Linked DNA regions of Homo sapiens. The protein of the gene in region 2 purifies or fractionates together with the protein of the main gene of each other region. This does not show direct contact. Each region holds a gene or a part of one and is shown on either strand. Other genes may lie near its edges.

Evidence for each region. Proteins that work in one complex are often made in the same cells at the same time.
Region 1: the proteins of PCK2 (region 2) and DMBT1 purify together in Homo sapiens (affinity purification with mass spectrometry; 2 studies listed by BioGRID and IntAct, with this or other methods). This does not show direct contact.
Region 3: the proteins of PCK2 (region 2) and ZMYM3 purify together in Homo sapiens (affinity purification with mass spectrometry; 2 studies listed by BioGRID and IntAct, with this or other methods). This does not show direct contact.

The regions. Positions count from the first base shown.
Region 1 is NC_000010.11:122,640,399-122,644,971, forward strand, and holds the end of DMBT1 (scavenger receptor cysteine-rich domain-containing protein DMBT1 isoform e precursor), read left to right. Parts: coding exon 1-51; intron 52-2,723; coding exon 2,724-3,000; 3' UTR 3,001-3,338; downstream 3,339-4,573.
Region 2 is NC_000014.9:24,088,758-24,097,733, forward strand, and holds the start of PCK2 (phosphoenolpyruvate carboxykinase [GTP], mitochondrial isoform 1 precursor), read left to right. Parts: upstream 1-5,553; 5' UTR 5,554-5,648; coding exon 5,649-5,677; exon of another isoform or gene 5,678-5,710; coding exon of another isoform or gene 5,711-5,989; exon of another isoform or gene 5,990-6,088; intron 6,089-6,280; exon of another isoform or gene 6,281-6,373; intron 6,374-8,134; coding exon 8,135-8,380; intron 8,381-8,976. Other genes in the region: NRL (neural retina-specific leucine zipper protein), read right to left, coding at 5,711-5,989. UniProt on the Homo sapiens protein: Mitochondrial phosphoenolpyruvate carboxykinase that catalyzes the conversion of oxaloacetate (OAA) to phosphoenolpyruvate (PEP), the rate-limiting step in the metabolic pathway that produces glucose from lactate and other precursors derived from the citric acid cycle.
Region 3 is NC_000023.11:71,250,406-71,259,013, reverse strand, and holds the start of ZMYM3 (zinc finger MYM-type protein 3), read left to right. Parts: upstream 1-4,873; 5' UTR 4,874-4,985; intron 4,986-5,277; exon of another isoform or gene 5,278-5,440; intron 5,441-5,739; 5' UTR 5,740-5,758; coding exon 5,759-6,425; intron 6,426-7,412; coding exon 7,413-7,456; intron 7,457-7,769; coding exon 7,770-7,836; intron 7,837-8,287; coding exon 8,288-8,582; intron 8,583-8,608. UniProt on the Homo sapiens protein: Plays a role in the regulation of cell morphology and cytoskeletal organization.

The sequences.
Region 1 (4,573 bases), on a different chromosome or scaffold from region 2:
ACCATACTCCAATGACTTCACGTCTTTGACTTATGATCTAATCCGGAGTGGGTAAGGAGTGTCTTTATGCGATGGCCTTAAACCTTTACTTGATAACTCAAACATGAGTAGCCCCAAAGGCTTGAAGAATGCAAATTTTGATGAACTGCAGTTCCCAGTACTTCCAGCTTAACTGGATCCCTTTCTACATGTAGTGATGTCCTGTAGCTTTCACCTTTGAGGTGCTTTTACTCTGTGTTCTGTATCACATCCCTGATTTCTCATCAGGTAGGATGACCATGTATCATCTCCAGTTAACATCTGGGGAGATGGGTTTCTGGAGAATAGAACAGCTCAGCAGTGTTCACTCAGCAGGTTAGCTGTAAACCGTGATCAGACTCTAGGTGACTGAACTCCAGCCATACGGTTAAAAAGACCTGCGTATAGTGGGAAAAGCATTGATTTGGAGCAGACCAAGGTTGAAATGCCAGCTCTGCCACGTGCCAGTTGCATGATTCTGGGCCAGTGAAAGCACCTCTATGGACCAGTTGCTCGCCTGTCAAGTGGGGATAATGACACGCACATTGTAAGGCTGTTGGGAGGATGGGATGAGAGAGAGTGGATGTGGCACTGAGCACAGAGAGTGTGCAGCAGGTGGTCCACCAGGAATGTGCACTGAAGATGGCAGGAGCCCTGCTGCCCTCCTTCAGCCTGGGAATAGAAGCTCTGGGAGTCCACGGGTTCCAGTCAAGCTCAGGAGGTGCAGAGGTCAGGCCAGAGATGTCAGGCTGGGGCCAGAGGGTGTGCAGGCTGGGCTGCTCTACCATAGCCCAGCTTCCCTGGATGACTGCATGTGGGTGAAGTGGGGTTTGACTCTTCTGCACTCATGATGACACCATGATGTGCAACTCCAGCCCCCTCTGAAGTCTCTGTTGATAGATGTGTACCACACTTCTTGGCTTACAATATAGACCTGGACACTTCAGTAGCCATTGCCTTCCAAGAGAATTTATACCAATAGGATAAAGAGTTCTACTAGGAATTAGAGGTGGGCAGATTCAATTCGACACCCTCTTGATATGCTAAACGTAGCACCTCTTTCCAGGCACAGTGTGAACATATGTCAGTTCAGTAGGTAGGTGTTGAGGCTCACCTTGTTTACAGTCTATGCAGCTTGCTCAATTCACAGCAGCCCCCTTGGTGGCTGAGAGGAGGGGAGAAAGCTTAACCAGATTCCCGTTGTACAAATAGTCATAAGGTGACTTTTGAATTTGTGTGAATTGATTGACATTAATGAAAATGAGTGGGTGACCTTAGTTCTTCCTTGCCAAAGGATTCTTTCTGGTCAAATCCTGCCATTTCTATATGACAATGCAATTTGCTGGGAAGACGGGGATGTGTGTGCAGGGGTAGATGTACCCTGGCTATACCTGGAGCACAGGGACTTATTGGCTACACCTGGCCATCAACAAGATCATCCACCTGGAAGTCCATTAGAATGACCTGGGGCTCCAAACACACCCTGCCCAGGCCCTACCCATACATTCTCTGTTTGGCCTGGTGGGGCTTGGGCATGTTACGTTTAAAAAATCTTGAGTGATTCTGAGGTGGAGTCATGGCTGTGGCTTCGCTGTGGCATTCTGGTCTGCGTGGAGCCCTGAATGGCAGGGTTTTACGGCAAATGCAATGACTGCCCAGGGGCTTCTAAGTGACCCTGACCTTTTTCCCAAGTGTCCCACCTCTGAACAAGCCTCTGGCTATTTTTGCTTCCTCCTTTGCCACTAAGGGAGCTACTGTGAAAAAAAAAACAAAAACAAAAAAGAAAACTTGGTATTTGAGAGAATCTGGGTTGCCTATGGAGGAAGGAAGGAGGCTCTAGAAGACAGAAGGAGGGGAGCAGATCCTGGCCAGGTTCCCAGGCTGAGCCAGACTGCCCTGGAGACCACATCCACCACCCACGAGAAATGCCCATCCTAGGCCAGTGGGCCAGTTTTCCTGGCTTTTCTCTTTGCCATGCCCTTCAAAATCCCACCAATCTATAATAACTGGGTTAGTGTGAGCTGCTTCTTCCATCTTAGGAAAATTCCTGTAAGCATATCCTTAGGTTATTTTCCCTCTGACCCCTGCTGAGAGGAGGTGCCCCAGGGAATGAGGAGGGGGTTTATATCGGTATAGGGGCTCCTGGAGGGTTCGCAGGCCAGTGTGGAACGTACAGCTGCATGGGGCTCAGGGCAGGCTGAGGAGGGTCAGGAAAGAGAGGCCCTGGGAGAGGGAGGGTCAGGGCACTGTACTCAGAGTGCAGCCGAATGAGACCTTGCCTGGCCCTGACACCAGGTGAGAGAAGGGAAGGTCATTTACTTTTCTGCCCTGTCTCTGGGTCCCGCTCCTGGGCTCCAAACTCCAGCTACTTCCCTGACTCATCTGGTTTACCTGGGTGCATGGAGCATGTGGTCATTGTGGGATTAGGCCTCAACCCACTGTGCAGTATGGGACCTGCTTGTCTATCGGGAAAGCTCTCACAGGCTTTGCTGCCTAAGGATGGCGGTGAGGTACCGGAGCTGCCAGGATTTCTCTGCAGGCCCCTCAGTGAGTGTCTGATCCACACGTTCTGACAGAAGGAAGGTGAGGTGTGCAGGAGGCAGGGGCAGTGAGGACAGGCTGTGGAGTTCCTCACCTGGTACAACTGAGTCATGAAGGAAGAATCGGGCCTTGGTGAGAGCTAAGGGGCTACTGTTCTCTTCCAGATGCGTGAGGGATGACACCTACGGACCCTACTCCTCGCCATCTCTTCGCATTGCCCGCTTCCGGTTCAGGGCCTTCCACTTCCTGAACCGCTTCCCCTCCGTGTACCTGCGTTGTAAAATGGTGGTGTGCAGAGCGTATGACCCCTCTTCCCGCTGCTACCGAGGCTGTGTGTTGAGGTCGAAGAGGGATGTGGGCTCCTACCAGGAAAAGGTGGACGTCGTCCTGGGTCCCATCCAGCTGCAGACCCCCCCACGCCGAGAAGAGGAGCCTCGGTAGGTGGTCGCTCTCAGACCCCACTGTCCACCGGGGCGCAGACCCCTGACTCGGGGACTTGGGATGTTCCTCTTGGTGTCATATTCCAACTCAGATTGAGCCCTACATTGTGCTGCACCTGGTCATACGGAGTTGAATCAGACCTGGTTCCCGCCTCCCCCAAGGCTCATGGTCCTTGGAGGACCCGTTGCAGGGTGAGGTCAAGAGAGTTCTGACCTGGATGGCCCATAGACCTGACGTCCCAGAATCCATGCTTCTCATCTGCAAAATGAAAATGTCAATACTTACTTCTTAGCACTGTTGAGAGGGTTACTTACATAAAGGAATTTTGGTGAAACTGCCTCAGCCTGTTCCTGGTGCAAGTCATTGAGTGCTTGGTAAATGGTAGTTTTTGTTACTCCTGTTGTTGTCACCCATGTTAACAACACCAATGATGACAGTATTCCTCACAACGATAATAACTATAACAGCAGACGTGTTGACATCAGGGTCTAGACAGGGCCATGGGGACGCCAGCTGCATGGATTTGTCCTGATCGCTGGCAGGCTCTACTGGGCACAAGCTATGTCACTTTTCTTCTCCAGAACAGGGAGTGCATCTGCTGCTGTGCTGCTGTGTTGCTGTGCGGCTGTGCTGCTGTGTTGCTGTGCGGCTGTGATGCTGCGCTGCTGTGCTGCTGTCATGCTGTGCTGCTGTGATGCTGTGCGGCTGTGCTGCTGTCATGCTGTGATGCTGTGCGGCTGTGCGGCTGTGCGGCTGTGCGGCTGTGCTGCTGTGTTGCTGTGCGGCTGTGCTGCTGTGTTGTGGGCATGGACGAGGGAATGAATGTTTGCAGAGTGATGCCCAGGATTTCTGGCCCAGTCTGGGGCTAGGTCAACAGATGTGGTGGCCATGGTGTTGGGGGTGGGTGGGGCAGCAGTAGTTGTCACAAGCCCTCTCCTTGGTCAGGGCGCTGCCCATGGGGCATCTTTGACAGCTCTTTCCTCTTGATTCCTATTCAGGCCGTCTTTATGTCCACCTGAGTCCAGACTCTTTCCTCACTTGTTCATTCATTCAATGCATGTTTAATGAAGGACTGTTATGCACCAGGAGGCAGATAAAGTCTTGGAGGAAAAGATGCAATTCAGAATAAGTCTCATGAATGGTGCATGCAATGGGGTCGGAGTGAGGAGCAAAGGACATCAGGGCAGGGCGAAGGTGCCTGTGGGCACAGGCTCACTTCCCTCCTCTCCCTCCTGTTCCCTGCAGCTGCCGTAGTAGCTCACGTCCTGGGGGCCTCTTACCTGGGACTCTTGTAATCATTTCCCAGCTGGTCTAAAATGCCCAACTCTCTCCCCTCCCATTCATCTGGAGCCTCAGGCCAGATTTGTTCTCCCAAAGCCCAGTTCCCAGTTCCTGCTAAGAAAAACTTCCCTGACTCTCCTTGGCTGATAAACGTGAAATCTCTCTAGTCTGACAGTCAGCTGCCCATTGGGGTCTGGCCTCAGTTTCCCATTCAGCACTTCCTTCTCCAAGTTTTTTATCCTTTCCCACCAAACAGTTCTGATTGCCTTTACTATGCCCAGGGGGCCATGGC
Region 2 (8,976 bases):
GGCTCAGCCTATCAAGTAGCAGACATGCACCACCATGCCTGGCTAATTTTTTTTTTTTTTTTTTTTTTCACAGAGTCTTGCTCTGTCCCCCAGGCTGGAGGGCAGTGGCGCGATCTTGGCTGACGGCAAGCTCCGCCTCCCAGGTTCATGCCATTCTCCTGCCTCAGACTCCGGCTGGAACTACAGGCACCCGCCACCATGCCTGGCTAATTTTTTTTTTGTATTTTTAGTAGAGATGGGGTTTCACTGGGTTAGCCAAGATGGTCTCGATCTCCTGACCTCGTGATCCGCCCGCCTCGGCCTCCCAAAGTGCTGGGATTACAGGCGTGAGCCACTGCGCCTGGCCTAATTTTTGTATTTTTAGTAGAGACAGGGTTTCATGTTGGCCAGGCTGGTCTTGAACTCCTGACCTCAAATGATCCACCCGCCTCAGCCTCCCAAAGCGCTGGGGTTATAGGCATGAGCCACTGCGCCGACCCTGAGTTATACATTTTAATCTTTTTTTTTTGAGACAGGGTCTCGCTCTGTTACCCAGGCTGGAGTGCAGTGGTGCAATCATAGCTCACTGCAGCCTTGAACTCCTGGGCTCAAGCTATCTCCCACTTTAGTCTCCCAAGCAGTTGGGACTACAGGTGCACACCACCATGCCTGGCTACTTTTTTATTTTTTGTAGAGAAGAAGTCTCACTATGTTGTTCAGGCTGGTCTTAAACTCCTGGGCTCAAGTGATCCTCCAGCCTCTGCCTCCCAAAGTGCTGGGATTACAAGGCATGAGCCACCACACCCAGCCCATTTTAAATATTTAAACACAAGGTTTGAGGGCCTCTATTTGTACTCCTGCCGCAGGTCCTACATATGTTAGAGATGTGTCTACATAAAAACAAACCATTTAAACAGAGATGAATGTGCTAAGAAGAAGAAGGGCAGGGTGCTATGAAATTTTCTTCCACGAAGACATACTCTAATACAAAGCCAGAGGGGATGCATCACAGGGACAGGTTGCCTAAGAAAGTCATGCTAAACCAAGACTGGTCAGGTGAATAAGAAGTGACCCTGCCTGGAGGTGTGGACAGGGTGGGAATTCCAGGCGGCAGAAACAACATATGCAAAGGTTGTGAGGCAGGAAAGATGTAGACATGTTCACAAAACTGAGAAAAGATCCACGTAGCCAGAGAGTAGAAAGCCTGGAAGGTGGGAAGAACAGTGATAGCTGAGGCTGGAGAAGTCAGCAGGGGCCAGATCATGCAGAGCCTGGGAGGTCACATTAAGGGTTTGGGCTTTATTCTAAGAGCAGGGAGAAGCTACTGAAGGGTTTTCAGTAGAGACATGATGTGATCAGATTTGTGTTCGGAAGGATCACGTATGTCAGCACTTTGTGTTTGTGGAGGAAGGCAACAATGAAATAAGAGTCAGATTAGAGGACTAATGCCGTAACCAAGTTGAGCCTGAGGAATATTTGCAACTGGAAGCACACTCTGAGACAGAAACTTGTGTGCAGGTGGTTTACTCGGGGGGGGGGGGGGGGCACGGGGGGGGACTTTCAAAGAAAGAGTAGCAGGACCCAAGAGAGGGAACAGTTGAATGGCACTGCAGTTGTAATCAGCTGAGCCTAAAGAGCTCTGGGGCTGGGATGGACCTTCAGAGTTGTCCCAAACTGAGACAAAGGGCTAGGCCTCTGTACTTTATAACAACCATTCATTGGATACATACTGCCCCCAGGAAGCGGGCATTGCATTTGGTGAGACAGCTCCCTTTGGCCACAGATAGTGCTCAAGGAAGTACTCAGCTGTGAGCTATCAGCAGCCAACACTCAGCAGCTGGAACAATGAGCATCATGATCCTGAAGCGGGAATCTGGGCTACACACCACAGCATCACTACTCGGGCTGTGAGACTTCAGGGATGAACCCAGAGGCCCCAGAGAGGACAATGCAGATCACACTCTGCCCCCTGGTGGTACTCCTTGGACATAGGGCCAGCTGGTGGGCCAGGCTCTCCCGGCAGGGAACTAAAGAAAAGTGTGTGGCAGATAAGGGGAAATGAGCAGTGCAAGGAAATCTGCACGTGAGCCCCTTGCTCCATCTGCCTAAAGCTAGAGAAGAAAGTAATGGTGGGGAAGAAGAATTCAGAAACGTGGCACTCATTCATTCTTTTATTCAACCAACTTTTATTAAGTGCCTGTTATAGGCCAGGTACTGCTGGGAACTAGGAGAAAAACAAGACTGAAATCATCACTCTAGTGAGGATTACAGAGATATAAAAGTAACTACAGTATAGTAAAGTACAAAAATATAGGCATATACATGGGATAGAAGCAACACAGATGAAATAGATGTTCATTCTAAGGGACGAACAGAAAAGGCCTGTGTGTGTGTGTGTGTGTGTGTGTGTGTGTGTGTGTGTGTGTGTGTTAGAGACAGAGTCTCACTGTGTTGCCCAGGCTGGAGTGCAGTGGTGCGATCTCGGCTCACTGCAACCTCCGCCTCCCGGGTTCAAGCGATTCTCCTGCCTCAGCCTCCTGAGTAGCTGGGACTACCGGCGTGCGCCACCACACCAAGCTAATTTTTGTATTTTTAGTAGAGACGGGGTTTCACCATGTTGGCCAGGATGGTGTGTGTTTAATTTGAGTGCAGATGCCCAGAAAAAGTTCACAGAAGTGCTCTGGAAACTTCAGAGTTCAGTACGTAGGAGAAAAGGAGGCAAGTGGGGATGTGGGGGTGACAACATTAGATAAATAGGAGTCAGATTATGAAGGACATAAGATATCATGTGATGGAAAGAGCCTGGAAGAGATTTTAAGCTTAAGAGTGATATGATCTAATTTTTAATGGTAAATCAAGGGGACAGTATAGGATTTATAGGGAGAGGGGGACTTGGTAATTAGAGTCAGAAAGATATGGATTCAGATTCCATTTCTCCTGCTAACCATTTGTGTGACTTTGAGCAAATGACTCTTTTTTTTTTCAATATACACAAAGCAATTTTATTTGTATGTACTTGTGGTAAACAATTAGAACATTTCATTCATAATAGGATAAAAGTATAAAATATTCATGAATAATTTTTTTTCAGAACAGGAATGGAAGTTTATTAAAAAGCTTTAGAGCAGGAATGAAAGAAAGGAAAGTACACTTGGAAGAGGCCCAAGCAGGCATCTTGGAGGTCAAGTGCGGCATTTGACCTTTGATTTAGGGTGTTATATGTTGGCATACTTCTGGGGTCCTGCCTCCCTTTTTCCTTGATTCTTCCCTTAGGGTGACCGAGCAAATGACTCTTTAAGCCCGTGTCCACATATGTAAAATATAGTTGTGAAACAGAATGAGATTATGCATGCAGAGTTGCTGACACAGAGCCTGGCACCTACTGTCCATAGCATAAACATTATTCTTCTCTCTTAACTTTCCAAGTGGATTTGCATGCACAGTGTGGGGAGTGGCTTGGTAGGGAGAGGGGTTGGTGTTTGGAGAGGCAGGAGTCCAAGAAGTGCCTTAGAAGCTATCACCTGAAGCCAGGTGAGAGATAAGCCCTGAACTAAGGCCCTGGCCATGGGGATAGTTGCAGACTTGAGGGCTAATTGAGAAGTACAATTCCAAAGGTCCTGGCATCTGATTAGCTATGCAGGATAAGAATAGTCTAGACTGATTCCCTTTGGGGCAACTGGCCAGATGATGGTGCCATTTGCTGAGGTAGGAAACCATGAGAGCAGGTGCAGGATTATGGAGAAGATGATGACCTTCAGGTCAACCATGCTGCCACCAGTGTGCACACCTTTAGGCCCAAAGGTTGGCCAAGAGGTATGTGTTTGCAGCTGGGTAAGTGTGGACAGAGTTTGGATCTATGAACTGGGGGGAAAGAGATCCAAATACATATACCTGAGGTTGAGTGTAGGCTAGAGCCTGAGGGGGAAGAGACGGGGACCAGTAGCAAGCCCGTGGCTGGAGACCAGCTCTCCTTATCCCACTATGTTCCAGCATAGAACTCCAAGAAATCTGAGAATCAAGACTGTTTCTGTTGCAAGTGGCAGAACTCCAATTAAAATTAGCTTGAGCAAGAGAAGAAATGCATCAATTCCTGTAACTGAAATCAGGAATCCATTGCTCGCCATCTCCCTGCTCTGCTTCCTCTAGGCTGGCTTCTGTCTCAGCCAGGTTCCTGCTTTGCAGTGCCAAGCTAACACTCAGCAGCTCCAGGCTTATATTCTACCAGCTCAGCAACTCAGCAGAAAGAGAGCTAACTTCCAAAGTTTTAGAAAAAGTCCCAGAGAGGGATCTCATGCCCATCCTTGAACATCCTTGATTGCTGTGGCCAGAGTGAGGAACACAAAAGTTGGCTAAGCTGCAAGCCTACCCCCAAGAGGGGTGACATCAGACCCACATGACAATACAGACTGAGGAGATGGTTCCCCAAAAGAAAATCAGGGTGCTATTACCAGAAAAGGCGAGTGGATGCTGAGCAGACACCCATCATAGATATGCTGAGTTTGAGGTGCTATATAGCATTGTGGGTGATATCCAGTGGTCTCAGGTTGGAGAGAGATGTCCCAATGGAGGTATAGCTTGAGAAATCACCTGAGGACTTTATGATGGTAGTTGGGTGGGCAGATGAGTTTCCTCATTGGATTGTGGAGAGAAAGAATGACCAGGCCGGGCGTGGTGGCTCACGCCTGTAAATTCCAGCACTTTGGGAGGCCAAGGCAGGCGGATCACGAGGTCAGGAGTTGGAGACCAGCTTGGCCAGCATGGAGAAACCCCGTCTTTACAAAAAATACAAAAAATCAGCCGAGTGTGGTGGCAGGCGCCTGTAATTCCAGCTACTCTGCAGGTTGAGACAGGAGAATTGCTTGAACCCGGGAGGCGGAGTGTGCAGTGAGCCGAGATCGCGCCACTGCACGCACTCCAGCCTGGGTGACAGAGTAAGACTCCGTCAGGGGAAGAGGGGATGTGCCGGGGGAGGAGAATGACCAGATCAGAGGACCAAGGAAGAGACCCAGGGGTAGAGAGACTCCACCATTTCATGGCAAGGCAGAAAGGAGCCTTGATCAGGAGGAGAAACGGGGATTTAGGAGTTGGGGACTAAGTGGACCTTAGCATTGGGCACTTGGACTACAGAAAGGCCCAGGACTCAGGGTGTCGCGTCCCCAGGAGGAGGAACTGGAAAGGCAATGCCCAACCCCCTAACTTCTAGACGTCTGGCCCCTGTAGTCTCCCGCCCCTGGCCTCGCCCCTCGTTCCTAGCTTGTTTGCCACCTAGTGTCTCTCCCGGGAGCAAGAGTCCTCAAAGTTACATCATGTGCGGCTGGGAGGGCGGTGGCGGATGGGGGGCGGGGCCTCGAAGTCGGGGGCCGAAGAGTGGACCCAGTCCTCCAATGGGAGAGATGGGTTTGGCGGTTTGGAGGCAGGGGTTGGGGCGGCGGCTGGGCTGACCTGGAGCCTGGAGCCCCGGGGCCGAGGGAGCTGGCCTGCCAGCGGGGCGGAGGAAAGCTAGTGCCAGCCCTACCAGGTTCCGCCCCCGCGCCTGCCCCCCTCCTTTTTAAGCGCCTCCCGCCAGCCTCTGCTGTGGCTCGCTTCGCCGCGCTCCCTCCTTCCCCGCCTTCCATACCTCCCCGGCTCCGCTCGGTTCCTGGCCACCCCGCAGCCCCTGCCCAGGTGCCATGGCCGCATTGTACCGCCCTGGCCTGCGGTGAGTGACCCCCGGCCCGGGGCCCACCCGCACCTTCCGCTGCGCTCGCCCCCTCGGGGCTGCCAGTGGCGCTCTCCTGCTCTCAGCCTCCGCCAGGTTTCCCATCCTAGGCGGAGGCGGGCAGGGGCGACTGCTGTGGGTCCAGCCTCCCGCGCCGCGCGTCTCTTGGGAGGGCAGCCGGCCGGTGCTCCTCGTTTCCGCCTGCACCTCCCCTTCTCTGCCTCGCTCGCCTCTGACCGCGCGATCTCTATCTGCCACTCTCAGAACTTCCTCTCTCTCCTCGCTCCTCTCTGCTGAGCCAGGTCTCCGCATATCCTCCTTTCCTTCCCAGATACCTCCCTCGGACCTCTAACGGGCTCTCAGCCAGCGCCCCAGGGTACTTCGAGAGGCAGCAGGGCCCTGGGGACAAGGGTACGTGAGCCCCGGGAGACTAAGCTCAGAGCCCCCTAAAGAAGGTGGAAGGTTAAATATCCATTCCCGGCCTCTCCCGGACTGGAAGGACTGGAACCTGGCGGGAAGTCCAGAGCAGCCCGAGGGACCTGGGCCCAGGGGAGGGAGGCAAGCAAGGTGGGAGGAGGGCGCCAAGTTGCCTTCGTTTCTTACATAGCTGGCTTCTTCCTCCGTCCAGGCCTGGAGCCCCCAGGCTCGTCCTGTTTGTCTGCCTGTCCTCTTAGTCTCCTATTTATTCTCTGAGGCCTCTCTTCTCAGCTTTTGTCCCAGAGTCGGAAGTGACCCACATCTGTCGCACAGCCCGTTCCACTTGGGCAGCCCTTGTGGGTGGTCTCTGAAGGAAACGTCCCACTTAGAGGGCTGCAAGAGGGTGTGGGGGCTTCACAAGAGATAACGTGAGCCAGGCTCCAGGGAGAGAGAGGCTGTCCTCAAGACTGTGTGCTTGAAAACTGATGCTCACGGAGAACTTCCCTCTGAGGCAGGAACAGACCCAGGTCCCAGTAGCCCTCCTCCCCTGCCCCTGGGGCCACACTGATCATCTATCCTGCTTTAGCGGAAACCACCCCAGCTTCTACCCCAGACAGACTCAAGCTCCCGTATCCATGCTCTGAGCTTTCTTCCTTCCCCAGGCTAACACCCTCTGAGTCTGAGCTGCCAGCAAGCTGCTGTTCCACCCTCCCACCAACACCAAAGCTCTCTAGGCATGTGGCCTCTAGGAAGAAGAGCCAGGGGAAGCACGGGGTCACGTGGTCCTGGGTGTGGGGGCAGTTTCTGATGGGCGAGGCCTTGATAGAGGAGGAGAGTAACATCCCCTTCATGGTCTTTGCTCTCTCGGGTTTACTCCACCTTGAGTCCAGGCCAATCAGAGCAGACGTTGCTTCTCTGTCTCCCAGGGCCATGAGAGGACAGACAACAGGACGCTGACCTCCTGAGAATTAAGCCCATGAACCCCAGCCAGTGACACTCATTCCCCAGTGGTCAACCTTCCGCAGAGTTCAGAAATACTTACCCGAGGGCAACATTTTATGCAACCATTGTTGGTCCAAGTGGGCAGCAGCAGATCAGGGCCTGGAAGCCCAGCATCCAGTCACCTATTCTCTGTGCAAGAGCCCTCATCTAGAAACCTGGCACTGGAAAGACTGTGACCTTTGCTTGGGGCTTTCATAGTCTTACAGCATACACACCAGAAGGAAAGAATAAACACAGCTGCCATTTTAATTTATAAAAAACTATACTTGAAAATGGAAATAAAATGGATGAGGCTTCAAATACCAGACATATGAAATTGTCACCTGGGCCCAACTTCTTGTCTTGACACTTGGGCCAAAGGCCCCTACTCATTTCTTTTTTTTTTTTTTTTTTTTTTTTTTTTGAGACAGAGTCTTGCTCTGTCGCCCAGGTTGGAGTGCAGTGTCCCGATCTCGGCTCACTGCAACCTCCACCTCCCGGGTTCAAGCGATTCTCCTGCCTCAGCCTCCTGAGTAGCTGGGACTAGAGGCACACGCCACCACATCCGGCTAATTTTTATATTTTTAGTAGATGGGGTTTCACCATGTTGCCCAGTATGGTCTTGATCTCCTGACCTCATGATCCACCTGCCTCAGCCTCCCAAAGTGCTGGGATTACAGGCATGAGCCACCGTGCCCAGCCATCTCCCTACTTATTTCTAAACGTTGATTAAACAGTTAAACATGGGCATGGGCTACACAGGCAGTAACATCAGCATGCCTACATGTATACTTCCACACAGCCAGGCATGTGCCTTTTTTGCTCATTTGGCCATATCTGTCCCTCGCTGAGCAGGAGACACCCTCCTCAAGCCTCATAAAGGCTACAAGATACATGTGTCCTGAACACATCCCACACACCAACTGCAACCTGCTCTTCATGGTCCCTGCATGCAGACATGTTTTAGCAGGCTGCAGCCCAAGCTTTCTGTCTCTCCACCACCTGCCTTGTCCACTCTCGATGACAGCAACTAGCTCATTGCCTCTGTTTCTCCTATAGGCTTAACTGGCATGGGCTGAGCCCCTTGGGCTGGCCATCATGCCGTAGCATCCAGACCCTGCGAGTGCTTAGTGGAGATCTGGGCCAGCTTCCCACTGGCATTCGAGATTTTGTAGAGCACAGTGCCCGCCTGTGCCAACCAGAGGGCATCCACATCTGTGATGGAACTGAGGCTGAGAATACTGCCACACTGACCCTGCTGGAGCAGCAGGGCCTCATCCGAAAGCTCCCCAAGTACAATAACTGGTAAGCCTTGGGCTCCACAACCTGCAGGATAGGTGCACTGAGGCCACTTTGGGTTCACCAAGGCAAAATCAACTTAACTAGAACATCCCAATGGAATGAACAAGAATGAGAGCTTTGGGGTAAACAGACCCAGAAACTGGGATTTGCTTACGCCTATAATCCCAGCACTTTGAGAGGCCAAGGCGGGTGGATCACCAGGTGTCGGGAGTTTGGGACCAGCCTGACCAACATGGAGAAACCCCGTCTCTACTGAAAAAAAAAAAAAAAAATACAAAAATTAGCCCAGCATGGCAGCGCATGCCTGTAATCCCAGCTACTTGGGAGGGTGAGGCAGGAGAATCACTTAAACCCAAGAGGCGGAGGTTGCAGTGAGCCAAGATCGCGTCATTGCACTCCAGCCTGGGCAATAAGAGCGAAACTCTGTCTCAAAAAAAAAAAAGAAAGAAACTGGGATTTTTTTTTTTTTTTGAGATGGAGTCTCACTGTATCACCCAGGCTGGAGTGCAGTGGCATGATTTCAGCTCACAACAACCTCTGCCTCCGGGGAATTGTCTCAAGCAATTCTCCTGCCTCAGCCTCCGGAGTAGCTGGGATTA
Region 3 (8,608 bases), on a different chromosome or scaffold from region 2:
GTGCCTGTAGTCCCAGCTACAGGGAGGCTGAGGCAGGAGAATGGTGTGAACCTGGGAGGCGGAGCTTGCAGTGAGCCAAGATTGTGCCACTGCACTCTAGCCTGAGCAACAGAGCGAGACTCCGTCTCAAAAACAAAAACAAAAACAAAAAAATTAAGCCTGTCAGGAGAATCGCTTGAACCTGGGAGGTGGAGGTTGTAGTGAGCCAAGATCGCGCCACTGCACTCCAACCTGGGCAACAAGAGCGAGACTCCATCTCAAAAAAAAAAAAAAAGGAAATACAAAATGCAGAAAATTATTTTTATTTATATATATATATTTTTTGAGACAGGGTCTTGCTCTATCACCCAGGCTGGAGGGCAGTGGCACAATCCTGGCTCACTGCAACCTCCAGCCTTACCCTCCCGAGTAGCTGGGACCACATGCATGCACCACTGCCCTCAGATAATTTTTTGTATTTTTGGTAGAGACAGGGTTTCACCATGTTGCCCAGGCTTGTCTCGAACTCCTGAGCTGCCACCACGCCAGCTAATTTTTGTATTTTTTAGTAGAGACGGGTTTCACCACGTTGGTCAAGCTGGTCTTGAAGTCCTGACCTCAAATGATCCATCCGCCTCGGCCTCCCAAAGTGCGGCCTCCCACCGTGCCTGGCCAGCCCTTATTTTTAGGTGCTAACATTTTTTCATGATTATAAAAACAATATGTGCTCAGTAGAACAGTTTAGAAAATACAAGGCTGGGAGTGGTGGCTCACGCCTTTAGCAATCCCAGCACTTTGGGAGGCCGAGGTGGGTGGATCACTTGAGGTCAGGAGTTCGAGACCAACCATAGCCAACATGGTGGAACCCATCTGTACTAAAAAAAATACAAAAATTAGCTGGTGTGGTGGCACACGCCTGTAGTTCCAGCTACTCGGGAGGCTGAGGCATAAGGATCGCTTGAACCTGAGAAGCAGAGGTTGCAGTGAGCCGAGACCATGCCACTGCACTCCAGCCTGGGAGACAGAGTGAGACTCTGTCTCAAAAAAAAAAAAAAAAAGTTTAGTAAATACAAAATGCAGAAAATTATTTTTATTTATATATTTATTTATTTTTTTGAGACAGAGTCTTGCTCTATCGCCCAGGCTGGGGACAGTGGCACAATCTCGGCTTACTGCAACCTCCAGCCTTACCCTCTTGAGTAGCTGGGACCACAGGCGTGCACCACTACGCCTGGATAATTTTTTGTGCTTTTGGTAGAGATGGGGTTTCACCGTGTTGCCCAGTCTGGTCTCCAACTCCTGAGCTCAAGCAATCCACCCACCTCGACCTCCCAAAGTGCTGGGATCACAGGCGTGAGCCTCTGCGCTCGGCCTAAATTTTTTTAAATAAAAATTTTATTTACGGTCAGGCGCGGTGGCTCACGCCTGTGATCCCAGCACTTTGGGAGGCCGAGGCGGGTGGATCACGAGGTCAGGAGATTGAGACCATCCTGGCTAACACGGTGAAACCCCATCTCTACTAAAAATACAAAAAATTAGCCGGGCGTGGTGGCGGGCGCCTGTAGTCCCAGCTACTCGGGAGCCTGAGGCAGGAGAATGACGTGAACCCGGGAGGTGGAGCTTGCGGTGAGCTGAGATTGGGCCACTGCACTCCAGCCTGGGCGACAGAGCAAGACTCCGTCTCAAAAACAAAACAAAACAAAACAAAACATATATATATATATATTTGAGAGATGAAGTCTCGCTCTGTGGCCCAGGCTGGAGTGCAGTGGCTCAGTCTCAGCTTACCACAACCTCCGCCTCCCGGGTTCAAGCGATTCTCCTGACTCCCAAAGTGCTGGGATTACAGGAGTTACTGCACCAGGCCCACTTTATTTTTTAGAGCAGTTTTGGCATCACTGCAAAATTGAGCTGAAAGTATCAAGAGTCCTTTGTACCCCTCTCCACACACAGACACAGCCTCCCTATCAACATCCTGTCCAGAGTGGTAAATTTCTTGCAGTGATGAATATACAGTGACACATTATCAACCAAAGGCCATAGTTTACATAAGGGCTTCCTTTTGGTGTTGTACATTCTATGGGTTTTAATTTTTTTAAATAAAGATTTTATTTTTTAAGAGCAATTTTAGTTTCACAGCAAAACTGACAGGTAGGTCCGGAGAGTCCCATATACCTCCTTCCCCCATGCAGTCACGGCTCCCCTGACTACCAACATCCCTATCAGAGTGGTAAATTTGTTAAAATCGATGAACCTACATTAACACATCATTACTAACCAAAGCCTGCGGTTTACATTAGAGTTAGTTCACCCTTGGTGTTTACATTCTGTATCTTTGAACAAATGTATACTTACAAGTATCCACTATTACAGTATCATGAGAGTATTTTCGCTACCGTAAAAATCCTCTGTGCTGTCTGCCATTAGTTGTTTTTTGTTTTTGTTTTTTTAATGTGGGGTTTTGTTTTGTTTGGTTTGAGACAGAGCCCTCGTCTGTCGCCCCGGGCTGGAGTGCAGTGGCGCCATCTGAGCTCGCTGCAATTTCTGCCTCCCAGCTCAAGTGATCCTCACACCTCCGCCTCCTGAGTAGCTGGGACTACAGGTGCACACCAGCACACCTTGCTAATTTTTTGTATTTTTTGTAGAGAAGGGGTTTCACCATGTTGCTCAGGCTGGTTTGGAACTCCCGGGCTCAAAGGATCCAACCGTCTTGGCATCCCAAAGTGCCAGGATTACAGGCGTGAGTCACTGCGCCAGACTTAAAATGTGGTTGTTAATGACTACGTCTGTTGCATAACCAAAATCCCCTATTATTGGGCATTTAGATTGTTTCCTTATCTGTTTTAAAGAGGAGAAAACTAAGGCCCTTCACTTGACAAGTCACTTGTCCAAAGTCACCTGGCTAAAAAGTAGGCAGAACTGATATTAGAAATCTGGTCTGACTCCAGAACCCATTCTTAGGCCACCACACTGCGTCTAGAATTAATAACACACCACTTAACCCCGTTAGATCAGCTCCCCTCAACTTGAAAGATAGTGACCAGGCACCTCCACAAGCAGAGCAGCCAAGGATTCAAGTATATGTTGAGGAAGGCAGGCAATACAGAAAAAACTAGGTGGCTCAACTGAGATGGAACAAGCAGAAAATGCAAAGGGGAGGTCCAGGAATAGAAATAAACAGGAGGTAGGAGATGGGTACACAGAATGCTGGTTAAGACAAAGAGAAAGCTGGATTTGGGAAATCTAAAAGTAAGAAACTCTGGCTTTTATCTCTGTATGTAGGAGGGAGCAAAGATAACCTCAAGGCCATGTGGGGAGCTAGCAAGGATAAGGTTTCTGGGAAAAGGAATGAGAAAAGGGAGGGTAAACTCCCGAGGACTACAAGAGCAGGAGAGGCTTTGTGTGGCCAGGAGGAGAGGCCAGAAGTCAACGAGGCAGGCTAGAATAGGCACTGGATACCAAACCTTCCTGTTCCTAAGGAGACTTCCTTCCAGCCTGAGCCTCCTCTAGTAGTTCGGCTACTAAATGCTCTCAGCCCTTAGGGGCTGTGGTGGGAAGTGGGGAGCGGGGATTGTAAAGTGCTCTAACTATTAATATAATGCGGACTGAGAATGGATGCTGGCACAATTTTTTAAAGGCAGTAGGCTTAACGCTAGTGCCACCTACCCCTACTCCACTTCTCTAGCCTAACCTCAGCCACACCCACATGCTAAGGACCATCCAGGAGGGGGGAGCGTGTAGCGCGCCTGCGTGCTCGTGCGCACGAGAAGCAGAGAGGCAGAGAAGGAGACAAAAAGAGATAGGGGGAGAGAGAGAGAGAGAGCGAGAAGAGAGAGACAGACAAGGACAGAAAGGGGGCTGGAGGAGAAAGAGAGAGAGAGATACAGAGAGAGAGAGAGAGAGAGAGAGAGAGAGAGAGAGAGAGAGAGAGAGAGAGAGAGAGAGAGAGATCAGCCCTGGTGAGGGAGGAAAACTCCATAGATAATACAGGGAGCTCCTGCAGGAAGACTCAGGGAGAAGATCCCAGAACTTACCCTAAGACTGTTGAGAGAGTAGGGGGTAGCTTTGCAGGACCTGGTTTGGGGGTCATCAAGCAGTAACGGTTACTGCACAGGCGTTGCCACTGAGCCAGAGCCATTTAACCCGACCTGTGTGGCTGGGGATCAAGCTTCAGATACCCCATAACTCTGACTCTCAGACTGTTTTGGGGGCCCCGTGGCTGCAGACAAGGGAAGGAGGGGCACGTGAGGGCTGGGTCCCTGCCTCCCCCCGTCCTCCGCTGTCACTCACTACCCCAACAGTCGCCCAGGGGGCGGGACCCGGAGAGGTGGGGATGGGGGAGGGTAATCTTGGCAGGCGCCTGCTGCATGGCGTAGGTAGGGACTATTGAGGGGGGCGGACGCCGAGGGGGTGAACACGAGTGGGAAGCTAAGAGAGACACGGGGAGGGGGAGGGGACCGGGAACCATTTGAATGAGAGGAGGGGATCACGGGTAGAGTGGGCTCCAGGAGGTAGGGCGAGCAGGGTGTGACGGGGGCCAGACTCTTGAGCCAGGTAAGGGGAGCAGGTGCGTAGATCTGTGTTTTTTGTGGGTGAGCGCACTCGGCCCTTGGGTGGAAAGGGGACGCCGCCTTTCCCGGGGGGCCGGCTTCAAAGCTCCAGAGGCTATCTTTTCCTTCTCAACTAACGGGGCCCCGGGCGGGGGCTCAGGCGCCGTCTCTAGTGGCTGCATTCCACTCCGCAATTTCCAGGCGGCCACTGGACTGGGAGTCTCGCGCCGGGGGCCGGCGCTGTCTCGCGAGCCCCCTCCTCGAGCCAGCCAATGGGGTTGGTTGCTGGCACCGCCCGCCCGCCTGGTGCAGAGCGCTGGGCGCTGCGAGCGGCGCTGCCATTTAAAGGGGCCGCGACCCCTGTCCCGGCTGCTAGGGAGGGAGGTAGAGAAGGAGCGCGGGGCCGTCGCTGTCTGCAGTTCTAGGCTTGTAGCCTTTGCACTAACCCTGCCGCAGGTAGGGGTCGGGCCTGCTCAAGCCGAACCGAACCTGCAAGCGGGATCTTGCAGTAGCCGGGAGGCGGTGGTGGGGGGGTCTAAGGAGAGATCGTAGCTCCAAAATGTCTTCCTGTAAATGCCTGAGGTTGGGGGTGGGCAACAGGAGAAGGGAGGACTGGAGGAGCAATGGGAAAGGGGGACGGGGCTGAGGAAGTGGGCGACCTGAAAGGTAACTGGGGGGAAGGGGTTGCGAAGGGCAGTTTGTGGGGGCGGGGGAAGGGCCGAGGGAGGACCTAGCAACGCGGGGAGGGGGGGTGGGGCCAGACAGGGTGGGTAAAGACTGGGGAGCTGGGGGGCTCCTGCAGAGTGGGGAGGGAATAGAAACTGAGATCGCGGGGGCGGGAAAGGCTCCTGGTGGCGACGGCCTTAGGAGACTCTAAGGGGGCGTTCAGCCTGAGTTGCGGGGGGTAAAAGGTAAGGGGGGAAGGGAATGGGAGTTGCAGTCGAGTAGGGGGGTGGGCGGGTAGAACGACCGACTGCCTGGCCAGTGTGGGCACGGGGCCAGGGCGGGGAACGCCTCTCCCCACTGGGGGCGCTGTATTGGGGGGAGTGGTCATTAGGACTAAAGCCTTCGGAAATGCTTGTAGATTGTGGTGGTGGGGGCTGCTCATGAGAAATCCAAGTGGATGATGGGGTGTGTCTCAGAGCCTATATAAGAAGGAATTCAGGCTAAGACCACCTCTACTGCCCCCTCTTCTACTCCTAATCTGCAGTACATATCCAGCCATACTCATGGACCCCAGTGATTTCCCCAGTCCATTTGACCCATTGACCCTGCCAGAGAAGCCCCTGGCTGGAGACCTACCAGTAGACATGGAATTTGGAGAGGATCTACTGGAATCCCAGACTGCCCCAACTCGAGGATGGGCCCCCCCTGGCCCTTCTCCATCCTCGGGAGCCCTGGACCTGCTTGATACCCCTGCTGGCCTGGAAAAAGACCCTGGAGTCCTGGATGGAGCCACTGAGTTGCTGGGGCTGGGGGGGCTGCTCTATAAAGCCCCCTCTCCCCCGGAGGTGGACCACGGTCCTGAGGGAACCCTGGCATGGGATGCAGGAGATCAGACCCTAGAGCCTGGACCAGGGGGCCAGACCCCTGAGGTGGTACCACCTGATCCAGGGGCTGGGGCAAATTCCTGTTCACCTGAGGGGCTACTAGAGCCTTTGGCTCCAGATTCTCCAATAACACTGCAGTCCCCACATATTGAAGAGGAGGAGACCACCTCCATAGCTACTGCAAGAAGGGGCTCCCCTGGGCAGGAGGAGGAGCTTCCCCAAGGGCAGCCACAGAGCCCAAATGCCCCGCCTAGCCCTTCAGTGGGAGAGACTCTGGGGGATGGAATCAACAGTTCTCAGACCAAACCTGGGGGCTCTAGCCCCCCTGCACATCCTTCCTTGCCAGGTAGGTTGCCTAATTATCTGGAGAATCAGGGCTGGGAGAGGGTGGTGGTAAGGAGGGGTGGCTATGTGCTTTGGGAAGTAGTGGGGAGGAGGAGGGTGGAGAGATAAGTGTAGGGATGTGTGTGGGGAAGGACTTGGGGTTTACGAGGGAGGAGTGGGGTGGTGTGTAGAGGAAGATTAAGGAAAGTAGGGGTGGGCACAGGCTGTGGGGGAGGAATGGGGTAAGGTTTCAGGGAGCGTAGGTTGGGAGGAGTGAATTTGGTGGGAAGGGTTCCCTTTTTCCTACCCCAGTGGGCTTTTGGTGCCAGAGTCCTTCCTTCAGGATTTGGGGGAGTACACCAGGCTTCTTGGTTCTAAGACCTTTACAGCTTTTTGGTTCTAGATGGGAGTGGGATTTCTGGGTTTGATGAATGGTAACTAGGTTCTGGAGCCCCTAACAGCATAAGGATTTCAGCAGAGCGATAGAAATGCAGGGTCTAGGATTGCGTCTCTGATAGGGGAGGGACAACCTTGACTTGAGAGGCTCTAGTGTCTCCCCTCTTCTGCCTAGTGGTGTGCCTCTATCAGGCTGTGACGAGGGTCTTAGGGCTTATATAACCACCTGAATCCAGGGGAAGCTACCCATACACTGATGCTTCCTTTTCCTTTTGCTACCTTTGGGTGGTTGTGTGTGTTTTTCATTGGTAAAATATAAATTCTTAATGAAAGGTATATTACCTGTGTTTCCTTAACCCCCAAGGATTGGGACAGAAAGCTGGTGGGAAGGATAGATTTTTTTTTTTTCATGGAATAGCTGCACGTGCACCCCCCCACCCTTAGTACAGAGCCTGAGGTAACCCTGAGAGGGGCCCCAAGAAGCCACAGGCACTCGAGTTTTCCCTTTCAGTTTTGAGTAAGTTCTTCCCCAGGAATGGAGGCGGGGGTTGGGCCGGGGAGAGGGTGGTGAGGGCAGGCTCAACATTTAGGCTGCCTTCTGCTTCCTTTGCAGGAGATGGCCTGACTGCGAAGGCGAGTGAGAAGCCGCCTGAACGGGTGAGGGGGAGGGGATTGGAAGGAGTCTGGTTCCCCCTTAGCTCTGGGAAGGACAGACCCTTCATTTTCCCTCCCAGATGTTGTTCTGTAGAGAGTGTGTGTAAGGAGAGTTAGGAGGAGGGAGGGAGCACTAGTGTCTACTGCTTGTTGGGGAGAAAGTCCAACCTCCTTTTCTTCCCTCCTCCTAAGGGCTGGGCCAAGGGTCCCCACTCTCCCTTCCCCCTCCCATCTTCTATCCCCCCCCAAACCCTGTACTAGTGTTAGCCTGGCCAGGGTGTCAGTTTTCCTCCCCTCCCATCTTTCCGAGGTACAGAAGAGAAGCGAGCGCGTTAGGAGAGCAGAACCTCCAAAACCTGAGGTTGTAGATTCCACTGAGAGCAGTAAGTAGGATTTGAGGAAGTGTGACCTGGGAGTTCTGGGTGTGGAAAAGGTCCGAAAGTGGCATGCGGCAGGGCATGGATCTTCTAGCTCCTGCCGTCCTGCTCCATGAAGCGCATGAAGTGCCTGTCTCTGCTATGGGTTGGCATGGGAACCAGGGGCAGTGGGGGAAATTGAAAACAAGAGCAGTGAGAATGGCGAGTTTCCTGTTTCAGCTATGCCATCTCTGTCTCCGAATCTTCTCATTTAGAGCCTCTCCCTTTCCCTCCCTGGGAGGTTACAGAGTAACCAAGGGAGAGAGACACCAAGGTCTTAAGATACTGATGTAACAAGGGCCAGGGTGTAAAGGCCGGAACAACAGGGATCCCAGGAGAGGGACTGAACTGTTGGTCAGGGGATGGTTGGAGACCTGGTTTGGTGGCCTTTCTCATGTCCATCCCCCCACTTTCTCAGTTCCAGTGTCAGATGAGGATTCTGATGCCATGGTAGATGACCCCAATGATGAGGACTTTGTGCCATTCCGGCCCCGGCGCTCTCCTCGCATGTCCCTACGCTCAAGTGTGTCACAAAGGGCCGGGCGCTCTGCAGTGGGCACCAAGATGACTTGTGCACATTGCCGGACACCACTGCAGAAGGGGCAGACTGCCTATCAGCGCAAGGGGCTGCCTCAGCTCTTCTGCTCGTCATCCTGCCTCACCACTTTCTCCAAGAAGCCCTCGGGCAAAAAGACCTGTACCTTCTGCAAGAAGTGCGTGAGGGTCTTGGGGGCTATGC